Homo sapiens: one gene and its partners. The protein of the gene in region 2 purifies or fractionates together with the protein of the main gene of each other region. This does not show direct contact. Each region holds a gene or a part of one and is shown on either strand. Other genes may lie near its edges.

Region 1 (8,309 bases), on a different chromosome or scaffold from region 2:
TCACTGGCTGCTTTCTCAGTCCCTTTTTCCAGTTACTTAGAAACTCACTGGCCTTTAAATGTTGGGAATCCCCAGGGCTTTCTCTACCTACCCAATCCAGGATCTAATCACCCTTCTTACTACTTCCTGTTACCATCCTAGCACCACTCAACCCAGCATCATCTCTTGCTGTGGATAATTCCAATAGCTTCTTATGTGGTGTCTCTGCTTCTATCTTTGCCCTCCTACATACAGTCTATCCTCAAGTAACGGTGATCTTGTTCTCATATAGGGTGGTTCATGTATTCTTCTGCTCAAAACCCTGTAAAGGCTTCCATCTCATTGGGAGGTAGAATCCCAAATTCACCCCCTTTCCTCATTCCCTATTTGGAGCCACACTGGCCTTTATGTTCCTGAAATCTACCAGGCATACCTACCCCAAGGTCTTTATACCTTCTGTTCCTTCTGCCTAGATCATTCTTCCTAAACATATGCACAGCTCTCCCTCATGTCCTTCAGGTTTTCACTCAAAGATTACTATCTCAAGAAGACCTTCCCTAACTATCCAATTTAAAACTGCAATACCCATCTCACCCCCAACATACATAAGTACTTTCCTATTGTCTTTTTTTCACAGCACTTTTCATTATTTAACATACTATATTATTTGTTACTGTATATCACCCCCTACTAGAATGTCATTTAATGAGCATAGAATTTTTATCGGTACAGCTCAATATTATGTAGTCCCAGGGCCCAGCATTGTGCCTTACATATAGCAGGTAATCAACAGTATTTGTCAAATGAACGAACTTCAGGAAATGGCACTATCATCTACCTAGACATATAAATAAAAAACCTGGGTGATCCTTCATTCCTTCTTTTTTCCTTATCCCCCACATCCACTCCACCAGAAATCCCAAGGCTCTACTAGCTCTACCTCCACGTAGAACAGCACGAATCTTTGCCCATAATTCCAATGACACCACAATCCCTTGCTTGGTTATTCTGAGATCCATTATATTAGTTACCCTGCTTCCAGTGTTGCTCCTCTACAAGCCATTCCACATGTAACTTCCAGAGTAAATTCTTAAAAAAAATATGTCAGATCATGTCACTCTCCTGCTTAAAACTCTTCAATCACTCCCCGAGGCACTCAGAGTGAAATCTAAACTCGTTAACAGGGCCTAAGAGGCTCTGAATAAGCTGACCCCTGCCTGCATTTCCTACATCATCTTCCACTGCCCTCTTCTATGCTGACTACACTTTAGCTACACTGGCTTCTTCTCTGCTTTTTTTCCACCAGTAGCTTCTGCACTTTCTATTCCTTGTACCTAAAATGATGTTTACCTGCCTGGCTCAATATCATCATTGCAGAGCCACCTTCCCTGTTTACGGGGTCTAAATCAGAAGCCTCCAATTCTAACCTATTCCCATCCAGTTTTATTTTCTTCATAATCTCTACCATAATAAGTCTACACTCACTTGAATGTAAGTCCAAGAGAAGAATGCTTTCTTATCTGTCTTATTCATTACTGTACCCCAACGCCTACCTAGAATAACAACACACAGTAGTTATATGTGATTTTGCATATATACTTAAGTGAATTAAAGAAGTAGTTATTACCCCCTTCTTACATATTAAAATACCCACATAGGCTCAGCGATTAACCTGCTTCGGTTACACAACTGGTTAACAACAGTCAGCAGCAGGAGTTATCTAACGGAATTATATAGACTCTCAACTTACCACTTTCTTTGCGAATGGCTATACAATGCTTTAAGCATCTCAAAGCCTTGCCTATGTTACTTAACTTCTTGTACTTGTTTCCTACTCTTTATTTCCACTACCTTGATCCTTGGAGAGGCTTTCTCTACTGGTGACCTAAGCCACTGAGATTGCCATGTGTTAAAAAGCACTCATAAAATACATATATGTGAAAATTTAGGGGAGGAGGGAAGTGAGAAGGGCAATGAAAAAATAAGTAATTGTGTTAGCCACTGAACAAATCACAATCTGGTAGAAGCACAAACATGTAATTGCAGCAAATGCCTAGCAGAGATACCTGTTTAATGCCCGTCTGATAAATGAGTGTCTGAAGGAAGCACCTGTCAGATTAATATATCAAAAACCACTTTCGTTTTGTCGGTACTTGGTTCAAACACCCCTAATGTTCACAACTTACATGAGGTCAGTACACAAAGCCCATCACAATGAGGGCCTAATTTTTCAACCTAATCTTTTCCCGAAGCAAATTCTGACATCCGAGTCATGCCAGTCTCCGGTAAGTTTGAATCCTGGCTTAACTAAATATACTAAGCTCCCGAGTCTGTCCGTTGTGCTTGAGAAACCCCCCCCCCCCCTTTCCTGGCACAGTCCAGGGTACACAGCCTGCTCTCAGAAACGGACGTCAATCGAAAGCATTCTAACATACGATTCATCAAAGGTTACCGACTAATTCAAGTTTGGGATTTCTGAAAAGAGGCTGAGAAATCCGCGTGGAAGTTGGTGGTTGGGTGCGGCCCATTTCTCTCTCCACTTCCGTGCGGACGAAGAAAAATATCTTAAAACAAAATGAGGTTTTAAAGGTGTTTCAGCGGCAGCAGGGCAGGTAGAAAATCCAAAGGGGCAACAGATTTTCAAGAGGTGGGGAACGAACCCTAAGGCATGTCCCGTCCCCAACCCCTTCTCTCCTCTGGAGGGACCCCTGAACCTAACAGAAGAATAGGCGGCGAGCCTGGATCCCAGCCCCACTCCATGCTTTCCCGCACCGGCGTCTCAACCATCCACTATCCGGCCTCTAGCGTCTGCCGCGCCGCACTCCCACCTCCTCGATGTAGGCCGGCGGGTCTCGCTTGATTAGATTCTGTAACTGCGGCAGGTTGCTGGGAAGCTTGTTGTTGTTTCTGTTGGACATTTTGGCTGCAGACAGACTTCGCGGCGAGCAGTTTTAAAAAAACTCAGACGGCCGGCACCCCGCAATCCCTGCCAGCTGCAGCTTGGACTCGTGTTTCCGGGTATGACCGGAAATAGCGCATGGGACTCTAGGCAGGCGACACCTTAGCGGTTCCTAAAGCGAGCTATGCTACGGAAGCCTCAGAGTGTCAAAATTACTCTCGTTGCCAAAATACTCTGTGGTGTATTGGAGAGCCAGCCACCGCCGACCCGCCCCTCGCCCTTGGGCATATGCTACTACTTAATATTGCCTTGCGTTTCTGAAAGGATCTGAAATGTAAATTTTTTCACGTGTGTTAGCATGTATCGTCATTCCGACACCCATATGAAGCACATAAATGAGGATTAATCGTTTATTTTTAATCCCGCAGTCTAAAATTAGAAACTGACGCCTGTAATCCCAGCACTTTGGGAGGCCAAGGCGGGCCTGAGGTCGGGAGTTCGAGACCGGCCTGATCCACATGGAGAAACCCCGTCTCTACTAAAATTACAAAATTAGTCGAGCGTGGTGGCGCATGCCTGTAATCCCAGCTACTAGGGAGGCTGAGGCAGGAGAATCGCTTGAACACAGGAGGCGGAGATTGCGGTAAGCCGAGATTGCACCATTTCACTCCAGCCTGGGCAACAAGAGCGAAACTCCGTATAAAAAACAAAACAAAACAAAACAAAACTGAAAAGAACCGTGGCGCTAGATAACACTATTCCCTCTTAGGAGGAAAAAAGAGCAACGAGGGTCATATAAGTTAATGTGTATGATTTTAGATATGTTTTTATTTTGGTTTTGGTTGTTTCAACTTAGCGTGACCCATACAAGGGAAAAGAGGGCTGGATAAAATGTGATCATGTTGACCATTAATAAATGCAATTAATCGTTAAAATTCAACCATCGTTATAAGCTTTGTAAGCACTCCTCAGTCAGAGTTTTTAATTCAGATCCTGGTAATTCGAAGAGGAGAATACATTTCTACAATCTCAAGGTGTAAAAAATCAATAAGGGTTGAATGAATGAGGTAGGGTGTTGTGAATTAGAGAGAGAGAAAAAAAAACCTAATTACCCACCCTGTGCCAGGCACTATTCCAAGCACTTGTATTAACTTATTTAATCCTCAGAACAACCCTCTAAAATAGGTGCTATTGTTATCTACATTTTACAGAAGAGGAAACAAGCTCAGGGAAGTTGACTGCCTCAATTCATAGCCTGTGAGGAAGATGAGATTTCAATCTAGACAGTCTTGATTGTAACTACATGAGAAAAAACATAGCCTAACAGCTGGTAGCTGGTTGCTGGTCTGGCAAAATAGCCAGACAATAGGGTTCTGCTTAACCAAAGCAATTTTATAGAACGCCAACCTCATCTGTGACGATGATAAAATGAGCCCCAAACAAAACAACTCTGTAATCACACCTGCACACAAAATAAAGAATGCTTCACAAACCATGTTATTCAGCTGCTTTTGGAGAATGACTTATTTATTAATTATCAAATCAGTTACCTGTGAAGTTAAGAAATAAATGTCAGCAATAAATCTTTTTTAAAAAGCATAGATTTAAATTAAAATTTTTTGGCTAGGTTGTTTTAGTGAGGGCAAAAAAAGTATTCTCAAAACAAAATCTGGCTAAGTGTGGTAGCTCAAGCCTGTAATCCCAGAACTTTGGGAAGCCAAGGTGGGAGAACCACTTGAGCTGGGTAGTTCAAGACTAGCCTGGGCAATATAGTGAGACCCCATCTCTACCAAAAAGTTGAAAAATCAGCCAGGCATGGTGGCACAGGCTTGTGGTCCAAGCTACTGAGGAGGCTGAAGCAAAAGGGTTGCTTGAGCCCAGGAGGTTAAGGTTGCAGTGAAGCACTGCACACCAGCCTGGGCAATACAGTGAGACCCTGTCTCAAAAAAAAAAAAAAAAGAAAAAAGACTGCGTACAGGTACTTGAAAATGTCTGGTGTATTGAAACAATAGCCATAAGTTTGGTGTGACTAAAGGCTGGGAGGGCAGGGTGCAGCAGGGAAAGAGCTGAGAAGGTTATATTGTCCTGATATGAAAGGCTTTAATTGCTATTCTAAGGAGGGCATATAGGTCAGTTCATTTTACCTCCAGCAGCATGGAAGGCAGGATTTGTTTTTGATAAATGAGAACTCTAAGACTAAGAGTGGCTAACTGAATATATATTTTTCAGATGTTAAATAATTTGGGTATCTAAGGCCAACATCTCTGCTTTCATGTGAAATTCCATCCTTTATTTTTAAAATTATAATGTATTTATTTTATAGCTTTATTAAGATATAATTGATGTACAACAAACTACCCAGTGAACAATTTGATAAGTTTTGACATATGTATGTACCCATAAAACCATCATCACAATCAAAATAATGACTATATCCATCATCCCCAAACGTTCCTTGTGCCTCATCATCCCCAGACAAACACACATCTGCTTTCTGTCACCAAAGATATGTCTGTGTTTGCTGGAATTGTATACAAATGGAATCATACAGTACCTATTATTTGAGGTCAAGGTTCTTTCACTTAGCATAATTATTTTGAAATGTATCCATGGTGTTGTATGTATCAATAGTTCACTCCTTTTATTCCTGAGTAGTATTCCATCATATAGACATATTGCAATTTGTTTATCCATTCACTAGTTGCTGGATATTTGGGTTGTTTCCAGTTTTGGCTGTGAACATTCATGTTCAAGTCTCTTTTTAAGAGATAGGGTGTTGCTCTGTCACCAAGGGTGGAGTGCAGTGGCATGATCATAGCTCACTGCAGCCTTGAACTCCTAAACTCAGCCTCCCTAGTAGCTGGGACTACAGGTGGTGTGCCACCATGCCCAGCTAATTTAAAAAAATATATTTTTGGCTGGGCTCAGTGGCTCACGCCTGTAATCCCAGCACTTTGGGAGGCCGAGGCGGCGGGTCACGAGGTCAGGAGATCGAGATCATCCTGGCCAACATGGTGAAACTCCGTCTCTGCTAAAAAATACAAAAAATTAGCCGGGCGTGGTGGCGCGCACCTGTAGTCCCAGCTACTCAGGAGGCTGAGGCAGGGGAGTCGGTTGAACCCAGGAGGTGGAGGTTGCAGTGAGCCAAGATCGCACCACTGCACTCCAACCTTGGTGACAGAGCAAGACTCCGTCTCAAAAAAAAAAAAAAAAAAAAAAAAAAATATATATATATATATAAAAGACAGGGTCTCACTATGTTGTCCAGGCTGGTCTTGAATTCCTGGCCTCAAGTGATCCTCCCGCCTTGGCCTCTCAAAGTGTTGGGATTACAGGCTTGAGCCACCATGTCGTGCCATCAAGTCTCTATGTGGACATAAATATCTTGGTAAATGTCTAGGAATAGAATAACTGGATCAATATGATAGGTTTACGTGTAACTTTTAAGAAACTGCCGATCAATCTTTTGCTTCTACCATTCCACTGAAACTGTTTTTTATCAAGATCACCAATCACATCAATTTTCATTATTTAACTTAACCTGCAGCATTGGACACAGTTGGTCTCTCCCTTCTCCTGGAAACATACTTGGTAACTGACCTTTAACTGGTCTCTCTGCATTTTCCCTTACCCTCTTACACTGTATTTCCATGTAGTGGTCAGAGAGAGCCTTAAATGGATCAGGTTATTCTTCCAACTTCCCTTCTCACTCAGAGTAAAAGCTGAAGTTCTTCAGTGGCATAGAAGGCTGTTATGAACTGCATGATTGTGTCCCGCCAAATTCATATGTTGAAACCCTAACCCCCAATGGGATGGTATTAGGAGGTAATTAGTTCATGAAGGTGGAGTCCTCATGATGAGATTATCATCCTTGTAAGAAGAGACACAAGAAAGCTTACCTCCTTTCTCTCTGATCTCTGCCATGTGAGGATACGAGAAAACATCTGTTTGCAAATCAAGAAGAGTGCCTCATCAAATACTAAGATACTAGATCTGCTGGCACCTAGATTTTGGACTTGCCAGCCTCCAGAACTGTGAGGAATAAATGTTTGTTGTTGAAGTCATCGAGTCTGTGGTAATTTGTTATAGCAGCCCAAAACCTTATATGATCTGACCCCACACTATCTCACTGGGCTCCTCTCCCATCACTCTCCCCTTTGCTTACTCTGCGCCCCTTCAACCCTGCAATGATCCCCTAGCTGCCTTAAATGTGTCAAACTTCAGGCCTTCACACTTGCTGTTTCCTCTGATTCAAGTGCCACAAGCCTTGCTCTCTCATTGTCAAGTCTCTGCTCAAATGACAACTTATTAGAGATGTCTTCCCTGACCTCACAGCCCTCTGCTCACCCCACACTCCCTTCCCCTGCTTCATTTTCTCCAAAGCCCTTATCCGTCTCTGATATATCGTATACTTACTAGTTTAGTTGTTTATTGCCTGTCTTTATGCACTAGAATATGAGCTTAATGAAGACTGTTTTGTTCATTGTCTATCCTGTACACTTGGAGCAATGCATGCATATAATAGGTAATCAGTTAATATTTGTTGAATGAATGAATGAATGCATGGATAATCTCTAATGACTTCCAATTCTTCAACTGTGTGATTTATTAAAGCAGGAACTTAAAATATCTTGGACAAACGCAGATAAAATTTACCTGAAAATCAGTAAGTGACTAACGTGTGAATCCTTGTTATTACCTTTCTCATTAGAAACCAATGATATTGACTGTGTTCGGAAAAGCCAGTCATGTCTTCATCCTTTTCTGATTAAAATATATTGTTTTATTATTATTATTATTTGAGACAGGGTCTTGCTGTGTCACTCAGGCTGGAGTTCAGTGGCACAATCATGGCTTACTGTAACCTCAGCCTCCTGGGTTCAAACTATCCTCCTGCTTCAGTCTCCCAAGTGGCTGGGACTATAGGTGTGCACCACCATGCCTGGTTAATTTTTAAATTTTTTTGTAGAAATGAGGGACCGGGTGGGTGGGTCTGGCTATGTTGCCTGGGCTGGTCTCAAACTTCTGGGCTCAAGTGATCCTCCCGCCTCAGCCTCTCAAAATGTTGGGATTACAGGTGGGAGCTGCGATGTTTGGCCTATTGTTTAAAAAAACTGTTAGATTAGCCACTAGAGGGAGCTCATGCTTTTCTTGTTAACGGGAAAATTACATGATTTGACATGCCCACAAACTAAACAGAAATCTCATAAAGAATTATAGTCCTTAAAGCTAATTTAATTTTTTATTGCATTTTCTTTCTTCTTTCTTTCTTTCTTTTTTTAGACGGAGTCTCACTCTGTTGCCACGCTGGAATGCAGTGGCACGATCTCGGCTCACTGCAACCTCCGACTCTCTGGTTCAAGCGATTCTCCTGCCTCAGCCTCCTGAATAGCTAGGATTACAGGCATGCGCCACCACGCCCAGCTAATTT
Region 2 (9,177 bases):
AAAAAAAAAAAATTGTGATAATTTGATATTAATGGCCCTAGCCCAACAGCTGTCAAGCTATGGATGAAGCAAAACTCTGCAAATGGAAGGTGCGGTAAGCCCTGCCACGAAGACCTCTGTGGGCTACTGCGCTGTCCCTGTCCACACCCCAGATAAAAAGCTGTCAACTTGGAAAGAAAAGTCACTCAAGGAATAAGGAAGGAATCTTAATGATTTCACTGGACAATTTTTAATTTTCCCATTTGCTTTTCCTACCTCACATATTATGAACATACAAAATAATATGGGTTTTTTTTTAACACCATTTCCATCACACCAAATTACAGATTTAGAAATTCCTATTTTAGAAAGTTGACACAGAAAACCACTGAGTTTTCTTTTTCTTTTCTTTTTTTTTTTTTAGACGGCGTCTCGCTCTGTTGCCCAGGCTGGAGTGCAATGGCACGGTCTCAGCTCATTGCAAGCTCCGCCTCCTGGGTTCACGCCATTTTCCTGCCTCAGCCTCCCAAGTAGCTGGGACTACAGGCGCCCACCACCATGCCCGGCTGATTTTTTATATTTTTTTAGTAGAGACGGGTTTTCACCGTGTTAGCAAGGATGGTCTCGATCTCCTGACCTCGTGATCTACCCGCCTCGGCCTCCCAAAGTGCTGGGATTACAGGCGTGAGCCACCGCGCCCGGCCACCATTGAGTTTTCTAATAAAATTGGACCTCTCTGAGCTTTTTGGTTTCAAACTAAGCTTGATAACTTTGCTAAACTTTTTTATAGGCTGGTAAATGTGTAACTTCATCTATTTCTTTCCAAAGTTAACTACCTCCTATTTGAATTATATTGTTTGATCACAGAGCTAATCACAGCATTCAAGGGAATAAAACCCAGTTCTTAAGTAAAACTTACAGCTAAGAAATTTTGATAATAACTAATTAGTAGGCTTTGCTTGTACCCACGTGTAAGAATATGCACTATAGCAAGGTTTGTCATATATTAAAACATATACAATACACACTTTGACTCCTGCTAGGACAATACACAATTGGGTGCAGCCTTTGAACCAAGTGCCCAGGGATGGAGTGGAATGAGGCTTTACCTTTCTGTAGGTACTGTGTGCTTGCTTATCTTTTTAAATCTATCAATACAAATGTACTGCTTTATGCCAGAAGCATTTTTGATCTCTACCTATCTTGTTAAGTACTGTATCTCCTAGGGCCTAAAACAGGGAAGGCCTAGCACATAACAGGCCACAGACAAGTATTTGTCAAATGGATTAAGTTTGTTTTATGCATTCACTGGACAAATAGAAGTTAAAAAAATTCTTATTCCAAAAATCTAAAAGAATTCAAATGTTTTACAATACATAAATTCACGAGGAAGTGAAATTAGCCTCTGAGCCAAGATGTTTTTTGTGGATGATGTTATCACTTCATAGCTAATCCTTCCCCCTTGGCCTCCCAGTAACAACTGCATGAGCACGTCACACCAGAGACACATGTGTCATCAATTTCTCAGAGCTGGATCGATTATTTTTAAGCCCCTGTCCCTGCAGGAGGGCCTCCTTTTTTCCTTTCCAACTACAGCTTCAAATGTGATGTAGATGTAGTGGGATATACCCAGTCTTAGGAACCCTCAGACATCTAACAGGGCATCACTCACAGACAATGCATTCCTTTCAGAGTCTGTGTGAGTTCATCCTCTCCACCACAGGCAAGATATAGGCACCCAGCTCAGCCTGTCTCATCAAATACTTACCGAGCCCCCGTTGTGGCTGTCCATGCATACTGGACCCTGTCCTCCGGAGGAACCGCGCAATGAGAGACAGTTAATTCTCTTATCCAAGAAGGAACTGTATCAGCCAAGCTTTTATCCTTTCTTCCTTCTCCCTTTCCCCTCTGGGAAACCCTCAGCAGGCAAAAAGGATACAGCAGTCTCAACCCCAAGGAAAAGATGGTCATCAAAAGACAATTAGCTTTTCTATCTCCTAGAAACAACTGCTCTTAAGACAACCTAGCGTTTTGGAAAATGCAGCTCTGGGTGGCACCTTTCGAAGCAATAAAACATACGGCAAAATTTAAGAGGAAACAAAGAGGATTAAATACATATTTGTATTCTCAATTAAAAAAACTACGGTTCTATCATCTTAATTATGGAGTTAAACGTTAAAGAAACAAGTTTGATATCATGCCACTTTTCGTTATACTTCGAGAACGGAATGCAATAATGGTTAGTAAGAAGGAAGTAAAATGCCTGTATCAGAAGTAACAGCCCAAACCTGCTGACCAAAAATATTAACTGGGAACTAAACACCACGGTGCAGATCTCCGACATAGAAACCTGGACAGGAACACGTTTTAGGTTAGGTTTTCCAGCGTGTAAATCGGGACTCCAACACGTTTCAGCGTCCACAGCCCAATCTGACACCTTCCCTCGCACCCATCCACCACGCAATAATTTTCCTTCTGATGTGAACACGTCAAAAGTCACCTCGGGCCCCCAACTGCCCCAGATTGCTCCCGATCGCTGCAGACGCCCGGCACCCGCAGGAACTTCCCTGGCCCGGGCCGCCCGCGGCGCAGAGCATCCCGCGCGGACACTGCGCCCTCGGAAGGACACGCAGGACCGTCCAGGGCGCAGACTCGTCCCCAACGCAGTCTCCACTCCCGTGGCACAGCGTCCCCTCCCAAGGCAGCCTCCCCTGCCCGGGCCCAGCCTCATCCCGGGCGCAGCCTGCCGTCCCCCGGCGCAGCGTCCCATGCCGGGCGGAGCGTCTCCCCAGGGACATAGCCTACCGTCCCCAGGCGCAGCCTTGTTGCCAACGCAGCCTCCCGTTCCCCGGCGCAACCTTGTACCCGGGGCAGCCTCTGGTCCCCGGGCGCAGCCTCGTCCCCAGCGCAGCCTCCGATCTCCAGGGCACACCGTCCCCTCCCCAAAACGCAGTCTCGGTCCCCAGGGCGCAGCCTCGTCCCGGCGCACCTGCCCTCCCCGCGGCGCAGCGCGGCGCATCCCACGCGGACTCGGCGCCCTCGGGAGGGGACGCGGGGCCGCCCGGGCGCAGCTTCCTCCGGGAGCCGAGCGCCGGAGCAGACGGGCGACCCAGGAGGGTGGGTGCGAGGCGGTGCCGCGGCACCCTCGCTTCTCCGCGGGCGCCCTCCGCTCCCGGGACGGCCCGCAGCTCCGGCCCCACCACCAGTCCCTGCCCGGCGCTTACATAAACGCCGCCACCGCGGGGTCCGGAGCCCGCGCCCGCCCGAGCCGCCGCGGCCCCGCGCCGCCCTCACCTCAGCCGCAGCCGCGCCGCGCCTGGTCCTCCGCACGCGCGCCCCACGCTTCGGCCGCAGTCTCGCGCCGGGCGGCGCTCTGCCTCGTTGGTTGTGCGCAGCGGCGCGGCGTGGCCGTGGCCTCGCGCGGCCCGGAGCCCCGGCCGCCAACCTGGCCGCTTGGCCGCCGCTGCCGCCGCCGCCGCCGCCGCCGCCACGGCCGCCTCAGCGCCTCAGCCCCGCCGCCGGCGGCTCCGCCCCCTCCCCGCCCCCGCCGGCCCGCCGGGCGCGCGCACGCCGAGGGGGCGGGGGCGGCGCAGCGACGCCGGACGTGCGCGCGCTGGGGCGCCCGTGTCTGTCGTGGGCAGCCGGAGCTGTGGCACCTCCCTCACGACCACCTGCGGCGGACGGGCGCGGGGCCGTTGGGGCTGGAGCGCGGCCGGAGCTGAGAGACCGCGGCTGGGCGGCTCCGGAGCGTGGGGCGAGAGCGCGGGACCGGCCTGGCGTCGCGGCGCCGCCCGCCCGAGCGCGGCTGAGGAGACTCTGCCCGCCTTCGTTTTGGGGACGGGGTCTCACTGTCGCCCAGACTGGAGCGCGGTGGACCTCCGAGCTCACGCGATCCTGCCGCCTCAGCCTCCCTGGTAGCTGGGACCGCAGGCGCCCGGCGATTGGCGTTTGCGTTTTGCGGAGGTGGCGTCTCGCGGTGCTGCCCAGGCTCCCGGGCCCCCGCGCTCCTCCCTGCAGCGGGCGCTGCCCCCGCCGAGCCCCCGCCGAGCCCCCGCCGAGCCCCCGCCGAGCCCCCGCCGAGCCCCCGCCGAGCCCCCGCCGAGCCACCCCTGCTTCTCCCTCTCCCGGAGTTGCCTGGGACACGCGGGTCCCGCCGGCCCCCTCTCCCCGCCCGTCATCCTCACTGTAGACTCCGGGAGAACCAGGTCGCGGCCCAGGACCCTGGCTGGACACGGTTCCCGCCGTCTCCTGTTTAGTCCGCACTGACACTAGCAGCTGCTCCAGTTACCAACGTTTAGGTGATGGTGGTTTTGTTTGATTTTTTTTGTTTGTTTGTTTGTTTTAGGTTGATAGTAAAAGCATTTTTTTATAGCATATGCAATAGACCTACTCTTCGATTTATCTATATTTACTGACTGTTCCACAGTTATACCAAGAAATGTTTACACAGATGATGATAAGCATATGTAGAAATGCAACGTTTTCACTGACCGGAATAACCAGCTCCAGGCTGCAGTTCTCTGCACGAAGATAAAGTTTGATAGGCAAACTTGGCAGCTCCTGACCGCGGCGACCTGAGCCCAGAGGAGCAGCCGGGGGCGGTGGGCAGAGCCAGGTGTGGACAAGCGGGTGGGTCCCGCACCTGGGTGGGGGAAGCGGCAGGTTCCAGGGTCAAATTGAGGTTGTACTAGCCCTGGCCTCCAAACCTCAGGCGGCCCACTCTGCCCTCGGCCTCTTTCCTCCCTTGTAAAGTGGGGAGTAAGAGACCATCGCAAGCCAGGGATGGGGTGGCGCACACTGTGATCTCAGCCAGTCTGGAGGCTGGGGCTGGGCGGTGGGGGGGTGCGGGTCGCTTGTGTCTCAGAGCTGGAGCTGTGGTGTGCGAGGCCGAGGTCCGCGCCTATAAATGGCCGCTGCGCTCTGGCCCGGGCAACACTGAGACTCCGACTCTGGAAAACAACAAAACTTAAAAGACGAACACAGATGGAAGTTTGGGAGCCTGGTATGCGGTAAGCACTCCGCAGGTGTCAGCCGCCAGCCCGCAGTCCCGGACAGGTCAGGGGAAGGCCCGCGGTATGCAGCAGGCTGCCGGCTTCAGTCACTGCCTGGTGGAAAACAAGCCTGTCTTTGGGGCCAGCCAGCTAACAAGTGAGCCCTTCACCCCATCTGAAGGCGAAGCACCCAAAGGGGCAACCGTGGACGGCTAAATAAAAATCAAGACTCCTGGGACGCCTTCTCGGGACACATTCTTAAAGAGATACGTGCCTGAGGACGTTGTGTGTATTTCTGTGTAACAGGCCACCCCAAACCTCAGAGGGCGAAAACCTCTCTTCACTGCTCATGACTCTGTGGGCCTGCAGCTTAAGCCGGTTCAGCTGGGACGGCTTGCCTCGGCTCCATGGGGTGTCTGCTGGGCCCACTTACAGGCAGGCGCCCCGGGCAGATCCGGGCCACATGTCACCCACCCACCGCAGGCTGGCCGGGCCTCCCTCCCGTGGTGGCTGGGCTCCGTCGGCAGCAAGAAAAAGCAAATCCCCATGGTGCTTCCCTCCATCTCCCCAGGAGGGTGAGATGGCCGGGGCCTGAGTGGACGTGAGGCACCGCACAGGGGACGGGCACGGCAAGCATGGTTCATCGGGGCTGTCACTGCAGAAGTCTTCCACAGGCCTTCGCTGAGGTGCGGGTTGGTGTGGGGAATACAAGGGAACTCCCCAGAATGGAGGCTGCTTGTGCAAGTTTCAACTTGTCCTTTTTCTCCCTCCAGAGCAGCAGAGAGCGGATGGCGCCCAAGGCCGGGACCCTCTGCTGCTCCCACAGGCCTCTCAGGCGGCTCTGCAGGACCAGCCAGCAGCCTCTGATGCTCCCTTCCTATTCCATGGCTTCAGGTGCCATCCTCTCCACAGAGACGGTTTCTATTGTGACGCTCTCCCTGACTTGGAAGAATGGCACTGGGAACATTCCCCTTGGTGCTGATGTCGGGGAGGAAAGCAGTTTCCAGTCGCCTGGGGCCAGGACATGGCGTTCCCAGCTGTTGTAGAGCATGAAGCACCAGGATGCCCATTCGGGTGCCTGCTGAGATCAGGCTCTTTGAGAAGGAATCCTGTGGTCGCCTGAGGAAGTCCAAAAAAATTTCGAGGACATCTCAGCCATCCATCCCCTGTTCACTGTGGAGGTTGAACACCGGGGCTCCTGGAGGGGGGCCCTGGGTCTCCACAGAAGTGCTGGCAGCCACCATCCACTTCCTGGCCTTCCGTGCCCGCTCCACCTCTGTTCTGTTGTTTACTGTCTCCTTTGTGGGAATTATGGAATAAACAATCACTCTGGTGTCCTGGAAAATAAACCTGATGCTGGAGGGCTTGAGTGTAGGAATCCAGCTGGGCTCCCACTGTCTGCCCCAGGGTGCGGAGTTAGGCTTTGCATAAGCATGTGAGATGCCAACCGCTATGAAATGTGGTCTACACAGCACCAAAAATCCATTTCCCACGTTTTCCCTTCAGTGCAGTTAAATGGCATGACCCTGTGACTGTCTCCCACGAGAAGAACTAAAAATTACGCTGGTCCTGCCAATGCCTACAGGATACGGTGGCACAAAATGATTTCCACGGTCTTAGGATATAGACCCAGGCCGACTCGAGAGATTAAGTGGATTTCAAACTGTGGTCTTGAGCCTTCTGGGAACTGCCCGAAAGGAGGGGAAGGCGCCAGCCTCGGAGTGGTCCAGCTGCCCGGCCTGTTCACACACTGGCCTTTCAGTTGAAGACAGTGTTCAAAGCTTACCCGTGTAAATGCCACTGATCTGTGAACCCCCTTCCTGTCATGCCCAGGGCCTGGCAGACTGTGGCTAGAACGGTGGGATCAGAGCAGTGGGTCACGTGACCTGCGCACGGGTGTGCTGGCCTCCCTGGGCCGCGGTGGCCAGGACAGCCTTCCTTTCCCTTTCCAGCCACACAGGGCAATCCGTGTGCTCAGATTTCTGTCTCATCAATTACAGAGCGAGCTGCCAACCTGCTGTGCTGAGACTGTGGCCTGGTCTTGGTCCTGGTGTCCTAGGGCTGATGACTGACCACAGCCTTTGTGCTTTTGAAGCCTATTTGACTATAGTCCTTGTGTGCAACTAAAAATGTAGCTTTAAACAATCTTGCTTTGTTTTAATTCTGCCCAATCTATTTGAGAAAGGACACTCACAGGTACTTTTTAGATTGTAGCCTAAAGTGGATTATTGATTTCCTTGTTTCTCAAACGTCAGGAGGAGCATAAAACTGCTAATAAGAGGTGACCAATATTCGGTGATACCGTGATTTGAGACATAATATTTTTTGCCCTATATTTTAAAAATAAAATAAGAAGACATGAGACTGGAGTGGCAAAAACCAGATGTTGCCAAACCATTCAGTCAGCAGCTGCCATGGTGGTGGATACCATGTGTGAGACCTGCCCAGCTCACAATGTGCCACTGTCTCTAGGACAACTCCCAACTCCCACAGTGACACAGCAGGAACAGTCTGTCTGTGCTCTGTGACAGGCACACAGCACACCCCCCCACAACCCACTCCAGGACCTCAGGCGGGATTCTGACTCCCAGGATGGCCCTGGGTGCTTAGAGCTAGCATTGAGACAATCGTGAGTCTCTCTTTGTGCCTAGGCCTGAAGGGTTCAAATCCAGCACAATTAGGATGGTCTCCATCACTGGCCAGCCTGAAGAGAGAAAACTGGGGTAGACACACAGGGGCAGGAGAGAGAGGACGAACTGATGGCCTTTCAGCGCCGTAGGCAGTGTCACGTGCATAGGTCAACACGTGGCCAGGAAGATGTCTTTGCTTCAGGGCGTTCATGTTCTAGTGGGGAGATGGTGTCAGGGAGCAGTGCAGTGTGTTACCTGAGACACCGTCCAGGGCAGGAACAGAGGCGTGACAGTCAGTGCGGACCTGGCTGTGCCATGCAGCACTGGCCAAGTTGTTTGGCCTGTCTGAGCCTGTTCTGCATCCAGAAGAGGGAGACGATGGGTGGAAAAGCTCCAGTGGTGATGTACAAATGCAGGCTCCTAATGAAGAGGAGTGTGAACGGTTGCAGGAGTCCAGGGCACTGCAGCTGCACCGCTCAGGAGTGTCAGAGCAAGCTGCAGGAAGCTGCACTGAGCCTTGGAGGATGAGAAGGCACTGACGGCGGGAATGCCTGTGGCAGAGGAAAAATGCAGGAAGCTGCATTGAGCCTTGGAGGATGAGAAGGCATTGACAGCAGGAGTGCCTGTGGCAGAGGAAAAAGCACTTCCATGGCACATGAAGTCAGAGAAGAGAGGAGGCTTCTGCCACCATTGGTCAGAAGAGTCCTCCTGGTCAGGCCACTTTGCACTCTGTAGAGACCAGGGAAAGGGAATGTGCTGCGTGGTTAAGTCAGAGGTGGGCAGGCTGAGCCTGGGCCCAGTGGTGTCCAGTCAACAGCTAAGAATGAACATTAAACATGTAAAGTGTTGGGGTGGGTGGGGGCTTATGAAGAATAGATGCAGTGGGCTTATGTGGCCGGTAGAGCCATAGATCTTTGCCATCTGGCCCTTTGCAGAGAAAGGCAATCCCTGGTTTAGCCAAGTAGGGCCTAGCTCTGGAACTGGGAGGTGGAGCAGCTGCCATCGAAGTGCATAGACTGTCTGGGGGTGGGAGAAACACAACCCAAATCAGCACCCCGGTGAGGGGACGGAGGCTCTGACTTACCCGGCGGTGTCTGCCTAGAGCTCAGGCATGCCTGCGGCTTCCATGCAGAAGACCTTCATCAGGTGTTGACAGTGGAAATGGAAAGAGTTAAGAGGCTTTTGGAATTAGACTCAACAGGACTTAGTGATAGAGTCACTAGAGGGGTCTGGGGAGGAGAAGCATCAGGGCTTACCCAGGATCCTGGCTTGCACATATTGGCGGGTGATGGTGCTCTGGGATGACACGGGGGATGGGGGGACGAAACCAGGCATTCCTTTTGGGTGCGTTAAGTTTGCGATGCCTACAGGATGTCTGAGTGGCTGTGTTGGGAAGATAGCTACGTACAAAAGACTGATGTCCGGAGAGGAGAGCCGTGCTGGAGACGGACACTTGAAACCCTTGAAAATGGAAGACGTCACCGATCCCCTAAAGAGAGAATGGAGAAAGGAAAGAAGGGAACCTGGCTCCAGACCCGAAGAGCCTCAGCCTAGCATTAGAGGTGAGCATAGAGAGA
Region 3 (6,385 bases), on a different chromosome or scaffold from region 2:
CCCGGGGCAGCAGCACCTGGGTGTCTGCTCTGTGGAGGCCCAGACCGGAGCCACTGGCCTCAGCCCTCCCCGGGGCCCATCCTGGAACAGACTTGGCCTCACAGTGGGGCACGGACCTCCTCGCCATGGCCACCCGGCCCTCCCCGGCAGCTGCCCAGAGCTCTGCGGTCACCACGGCCTTCCCGGTGCCCCGCGGCACCTCACATCACTTGGGGGCAGGGACCACGTGCTGCTGGGAACAGGAAGTGTGTGGCTTGATTCTGTGCGGCCTAAGTGTGTTTCCTGGCAGGGTCAGTCACTGCCAGCGCTGGGAAACGGCCGGCCTGAACGCAAGCGATCAGCCAGCACCCACTGCCAGGAACGCCACACACAGAGCGCCCCCAATGCCATCCTGGGGTGGCCACCAAGGGCGGGGTCTCAGCCTGGCGTGCGCTGGCATGGGGGACACGAATTCCGCAGTCCACAGGCAGGGGACGCACCGCACAGAGCAGGACCCACGGCTGCTGCTGGGTCGGGTTTTATTTCAAATGCAGCCACAGAGGCGGTTTCTGCACAGGTACGTGATCCGACTCCACAAGCTCCCACCAGGGGCTCCCCATGACCCGCAATGACGCTGTGTGGGGTCAAAGGAAAACAGGCCACAGCCAGGCCCCTCGATGGACGCAGGCAGGGGACCAGGAATGCGGCCCACGCAGGGGGATCGGGAATCAGGCGGAAGGTGCAGGTTTGCAGCTGGCGGGAGGAGCCAGCATGCCCCAATCTCTAAAATATTCCCGGTAGAAAAATAGACATTTCCCTCCAAAGCAGATTCCTGGGGCTGGAGGGTCCCTCCAAGGCCAGGGGTCCGGGTGATTCCAGAGCATCCACGCTCTGCGCTGAAGGCACTGAACCTGCCATCACTGTCACAGCCGTCACCGGCCAAGGAGGGTCTGGAGGAGGGAAGGGGCCCTTGCGAGGCTCTGGTGCTGGTGATCCCGGCCCCCACCACCGGAGGAGCTGAAAGCCCTTGCTCAGCCGCTGCCCTGCTGGTGAACCCGGCCCCCACCGCCGGAGGAGCTGCACCCTGTGTGGTCTGAGGCAGCCCTGCACTGGGCAGCGGCCCCGCCCCGCGCTGAACCCACTAGGAGAGCAGCTGCAGCACCTGTCGGATGCGCTGGGCCCTCCCCGGCAGGGGGGGATCAGAGCCCTCCTCATCCAGCTCCCGCATCAGGGCTTCCGCCTTCTGCACCGTCAGCTCTCGGGCCCGGCCCTGCAGCCCCTCCAGGTAGGCCAGCAGGGTGGAGAAGTGCTCATCGGGAACCTGGACGGGAAAGAGATCGAGTTGGTCAGGGGCGGGGCAGGGAGGGGCCGCTGAACAGCAGGAGACAAGACGCTGCAGCCAAGGACACCCGGGCCTCAGGCTTCCGTCCTCCCACTGCGGCCCGAGGGTGTGGGCGGCCTGGCCACAGACCCTGCCCCAGACACTGGAAGAAGAAATGCCTGTTTAGAGGCAGACAAAACACTCAATTAACCTGGGTAAAACAGAAGCCATGTGGGGAGAACATTTCACAAACATCGTAAAAATCCTCAGAAAAACGAGAAAATACGACACAAATTAAACAGGGGTAGGCGGTGATGAAAGGTGCATTCAGAACAAAAAGCCAAGTACGCGCCGGCACTTGGCACGCTCGCCTTTCTGCTCAGGGCGGCAGTGGCCAGGTGGCATCTCTTGGTGGCCTGACCCTTGTCTGCTGGTGGTGGGGGCACCTCTGCACAGGCTCACCAGTCACCTGACAATCTGCTCTGCAGGCACGTTTCCTCAGGTCCCTGTGGCAGCGGCTTTCAACACTGGGCTCTTTTTATTATTGAGTTAGCAGAGTTCTAATTCCATGTGGGACTTGCAAACGTCTCCCATTCTGTAGCAACCATTTCACTTTCCAGCTAGTTCTGTATGCAGTGCAAAGTCTTAGATTCTTTTTTTTTTTTTTTTTTTTTTTGAGCCGGTCTTGCTCTGTTGTCCAGGCTGCAGTGCAGTGGCACGATCTCCACCTCCCAGGTTCAAGTAATTCTCCTGCCTCAGCCTCCCAAGTAGCTGGGATTATAGGCAAGCATTACCACACCTAGCTAATTTTTGTATTTTTAGTAGAGACGGGGTTTTTGCCATGTTGGCCAGGCTGGTCTCGAACTCTTGACCTCAAGTGATCCACCCGCCTCAGACTCCCAAAGTGCTGGGATTACAGGCGTGAGCCACCACGCCCGGCTACACAGTCTTAGATCCTGATGAAGGCACTTTCTCGACTTTTTCCTTTGTCGCTTGTGCTTCTAGAGTCACATTTAAGAAACTGTTGCCTCACCCAAGGGCACGAAATGGACTCTTAGGCTTTCATCTAAGAGTTTTGGTTTTAGCTTTTAAATTTAAGTCTCTGATCCATTTTGAGTTAATTTTTGCATATGGTTTGAAGCTGGGGGCTGCGTGCATTAAGTATCGGCATGTTCGTAAATATGTACGGTTACATATGAAATAAAAATGTATAAGTAAAATGCACATTTGTGTGTTTGTAAATATGTTTAATTACAATAGTGTAAGATAACTTTGCGTGTGTGTGTGTGTGTATACACACATATAAATGGCTAACCAAGGATTTGCCTAACCAAGGATTATTTTTCTGTATAAAAAGTTTTGTATAAAGTTTACTTTTGGTAATAGTAACATATAAATAAAACCACGTAAACTTTGGTTAAAACAAAACAAAACGTGGAAACCCAGTTGTCCCTGGCTCTGTTAAGAAGAGGTTTCCTCCACATGGAACAGGCTTGGCCCGCATGCTGGAATCAGCTGCGCCGGGCGTGAGGGTTTCCAGGCTTCCCAGGCTGTTCCAGTCAATTCTACTTCCACCCTTGTGCCTGCCCCAGTGTCGCGATTACCGGAGCTTGCAATAGGGCTTACAATCGGCTTGCAATAGGGCTTGCAATGTGTATGTCCTCTAACTCTGAGGAGGGAGAGTGGCTTGAGCCCAGGAGGTCGAGGCTGCAGTGAACTGTGGTCGTGTCACTGCACTCCAGCCTGGGCGGGGCCCTGTCTCAAAAAACGCCCACAAAAAAACAAAAACAACAAAATAATGAAAGCAAGTGGCTGCAGGCTATGCCTGGAATGTCCCAGGGCTGTGAGTGGGGCTGGTGGGCCTGCCCCGCTCTGAGAGTCTGCAAACACAGGCACGGCAGGAGAAAACCGCCCCCTGCCCCCAGCGCGCACGCAAAGCCTGGCCTCTAGTAACGTGGGCGCAGGAGAGCCAGCGAGGCAGGAGGCACTGCCCACCGGATGCAGCTCAGCAGAACCGTGGGCTCCTCCAGCCTCACAGGACATGGGCAGCTCCAGCCCGCCGCCCAGCAGCCGGGTTTAGTTCAGAATTCTGTCTCGTTTCATCCTGTGAAACTCTATCTCACATCCTGCCCCTGAAAAGGGCAGCTGCCCACACGTACATGTGTAGACACACATCACGCGCACACACGTGTAGACACACGTCATGCACACACGCACGTGTAGACACACGTCACACGCACACGTGCAGGTGGCCTCCCTAAGGTTACCCCGTGTTGGTTTCTGCCCTGAAGGCCGGCGGCAGGGCTCCTGGAGGAGGCAACGCTGCTCATCTCTTAGAACAAAGGCACCGGGAGACCTGCCCTGCAGTGGGGCCCTGAGGGCGGCCCCTTCAGACTGTGGCTTCTGCTGTCAGGGCCCCAGTGTGCACAGGAGACGTGCCTGCCCCGCCGTGCACAGACCTCAGCCCCCAGGAGACGTGCCTGCCCCGCCGTGCACAGACCTCAGCCCCCGGGAGACGTGCCTGCCCCGCCGTGCACACACCTCAGCCCCCGGGAGACGTGCCTGCCCCGCCGTGCACACACCTCAGCCCCCGGGGGGACGTGCCTGCCCCGCCGTGCACAGACCTCAGCCCCCAGGAGACGTGCCTGCCCCGCCGTGCACACACCTTGTCACTGTCATACATGTGCAGCAGGAGCCACGTCTGCCTCGTCTTCTGAAACCTCCAGTTCTTGTGCTTTTGGGCCCATCTAGGGAAAGAAAGACAAACATCTCAGGGTGCTGGGCAAAAGACTCCCGGGCAGCTGTCTGCCCTGAGAGATCGGGGACGCCTCATCTTAGGAGAGGGAGCCCCACCAGGTACTACACACCAAGGCCTCATGTGAAGAGGGTTTTTGGAGCCCCTCCCCTGCCCGAGGCGAGGAGCCGCAACCCCACGCCCTGCTGCCGCCTGACCAGGAAGCATGTGGACGCCACTCTTACCTTGGCCACCCCGGGGCTCACCACTGACCCCAAGTCCCCGTGGGCTCCCCCACCCCATGGGTCACACGGATTTTACAGGGGGGGAAGGATGAAGTGAGTTTCTCTGGGAGGAAAGGGAGCGATGTAATTGATGATGTATTTTCTACATGAAAATGGGAAGACTGTAAGGAACAATACCCTGAGTCCCAGGCCCTCACAACAAGGGGCCAGTGGGCCTGGGGACGAGCAGCTCCCGGCTGCTAGAGGGGCCGCTCCCCAGGGCCACAACCACCCCGCCCCCGTCCCGCTCCTGCACTAGGGCCTGTGGACATCAGGCAGCTGCGGATGGAGCGAAGCTGGCGCTGTGGGTAGGGCAGGGCCAGGCAGGGTTTACTCCAGAGACCTCCTCCCAGATACGTGTTTCCAGGGCCAGGCAGGGCAGCCGAGCCCAGAAGCCTCCATCAGTGTGCAAGCCCAGGTCTGAAGACTGTAGGCTCAGCACGGGGGAGGGCCCTGTGCCTGTTGTGAGCGCTGCCCAGCTTGCCTGACCCCACTGCCATGTGGGTGAGTGGAGTCCTGTGGGTGTGGAGCCCTGTGGGTGGGGAGTCCTGTGGGTGAGTGGAGTCCTGTGGGTGGGGAGTCCTGTGGGTGAGTGGAGTCCTGTGGGTGGGGATTCCTGTGGGTGAGTGGAGTCCTGTGGGTGGGGAGTCCTGTGGGTGAGTGGAGTCCTGCGGGTGAGTGGAGTCCTGTGGGTGAGTGGAATCCTGTGGGTGGGGAGTCCTGTGGGTGAGTGGAGCCCTGTGGGTGGGGAGTCCTGTGGGTGAGTGGAGTCCTGCGGGTGGGGGGTCCTGCCGGTGGGGAGTCCTGCGGGTGGGGAGTCCTGTGGGTGAGTGGAGTCCTGTGGGTGAGTGGAGTCCTGCGGGTGGGGAGTCCTGCGGGTGGGGAGTCCTGTGGGTTAGTGGAGTCCTGTGGGTGGGGAGTCCTGTGGGTGAGTGGAGTCCTGCGGGTGAGTGGAGTCCTGTGGGTGGGGAGTCCTGTGGGTAGGGAGTCCTGTGGGTGTGGAGCCCTGTGGGTGGGGAGTCCTGTGGGTGAGTGGAGTCCTGTGGGTGGGGAGTCCTGTGGGTGAGTGGAGTCCTGTGGGTGGGGAGTCCTGCGGGTGGGGAGTCCTGCGGGTGGGGAGTCCTGTGGGTGAGTGGAGTCCTGTGGGTGAGTGGAGTCCTGTGGGTGGGGAGTCCTGTGGGTGAGTGGAGTCCTGTGGGTGGGGAGTCCTGTGGGTTAGTGGAGTCCTGCGGGTGGGGAGTCCTGTGGGTGGGGAGTCCTCTGGGTGAGTGGAGTCCTGTGGGTGGGAAGTCCTGTGGGTGAGTGGAGCCCTGTGGGTGAGTGGAGTCCTGTGGGTGAGTGGAGTCCTGCAGGTGGGGAGTCCTGTGGGTGGGGAGTCCTGTGGGTGAGTGGAGTCCTGCGGGTGAGTGGAGTCCTGCGGGTGAGTGGAGTCCTGTGGGTGAGTGGAGCCCTGTGGGTGAGTGGAATCCTGTGGGTGGGGAGTCCTGTGGGTAGGGAATCCTGTGGGTGTGGAGCCCTGTGGGTGGGGAGTCCTGTGGGTGAATGGAGTCCTGTGGGTGGGGAGTCCTGTGGGTGAGTGGAGTCCTGCCGGTGGGGAGTCCTGTGGGTGGGGAGTCCTGTGGGTGAGTGGAGTCCTGTGGGTGAGTGGAGTCCTGTGGGTGGGGAGTCCTGTGGGTGAGTGGAGTCCTGTGGGTGGGGAGTCCTGTGGGTGAGTGGAGCCCTGTGGGTGAGTGGAGTCCTGCGGGTGAGTGGAGCCCTGCGGGTGAGTGGAGCCCTGTGGGTGAGTGGAGTCCTGCGGGTGGGGAGTCCTGTGGGTGGGGAGTCCTGCGGGTGAGTGGAGTCCTGCGGGTGAGTGGAGTCCTGCGGGTGAGTGGAGCCCTGTGGGTGAGTGGAGCCCTGTGGGTGAGTGGAATCCTGTGGGTGGGGAGTCCTGTGGGTGGGGAGTCCTTGGGTGAGTGGAGTCCTGTGGGTGAGTGGAGTCCTGTGGGTGGGGAGTCCTGTGGGTGAGTGGAGTCCTGCGGGTGGGGAGTCCTGTGGGTGAGTGGAGTCCTGTGGGTGGGGAGTCCT

Evidence for each region. Proteins that work in one complex are often made in the same cells at the same time.
Region 1: the proteins of ADARB1 (region 2) and SDAD1 purify together in Homo sapiens (affinity purification with mass spectrometry; 2 studies listed by BioGRID and IntAct, with this or other methods). This does not show direct contact.
Region 3: the proteins of ADARB1 (region 2) and CHLSN purify together in Homo sapiens (affinity purification with mass spectrometry; 2 studies listed by BioGRID and IntAct, with this or other methods). This does not show direct contact.

The regions. Positions count from the first base shown.
Region 1 is NC_000004.12:75,987,945-75,996,253, forward strand, and holds the start of SDAD1 (protein SDA1 homolog), read right to left. Parts: upstream 3,002-8,309; 5' UTR 2,898-3,001; coding exon 2,808-2,897; exon of another isoform or gene 2,767-2,807; coding exon of another isoform or gene 2,752-2,766; intron 1-2,751.
Region 2 is NC_000021.9:45,068,890-45,078,066, reverse strand, and holds the start of ADARB1 (double-stranded RNA-specific editase 1), read right to left. Parts: upstream 3,488-9,177; 5' UTR 3,274-3,487; intron 3,017-3,273; exon of another isoform or gene 2,969-3,016; intron 1-2,968. UniProt on the Homo sapiens protein: Catalyzes the hydrolytic deamination of adenosine to inosine in double-stranded RNA (dsRNA) referred to as A-to-I RNA editing.
Region 3 is NC_000007.14:996,505-1,002,889, forward strand, and holds the end of CHLSN (protein cholesin), read right to left. Parts: intron 4,048-6,385; coding exon 3,966-4,047; coding exon of another isoform or gene 3,962-3,965; intron 1,301-3,961; coding exon 1,121-1,300; 3' UTR 930-1,120; coding exon of another isoform or gene 912-929; 3' UTR 502-911; downstream 1-501. UniProt on the Homo sapiens protein: Hormone secreted from the intestine in response to cholesterol, where it acts to inhibit cholesterol synthesis in the liver and VLDL secretion,leading to a reduction in circulating cholesterol levels. Acts through binding to its receptor, GPR146.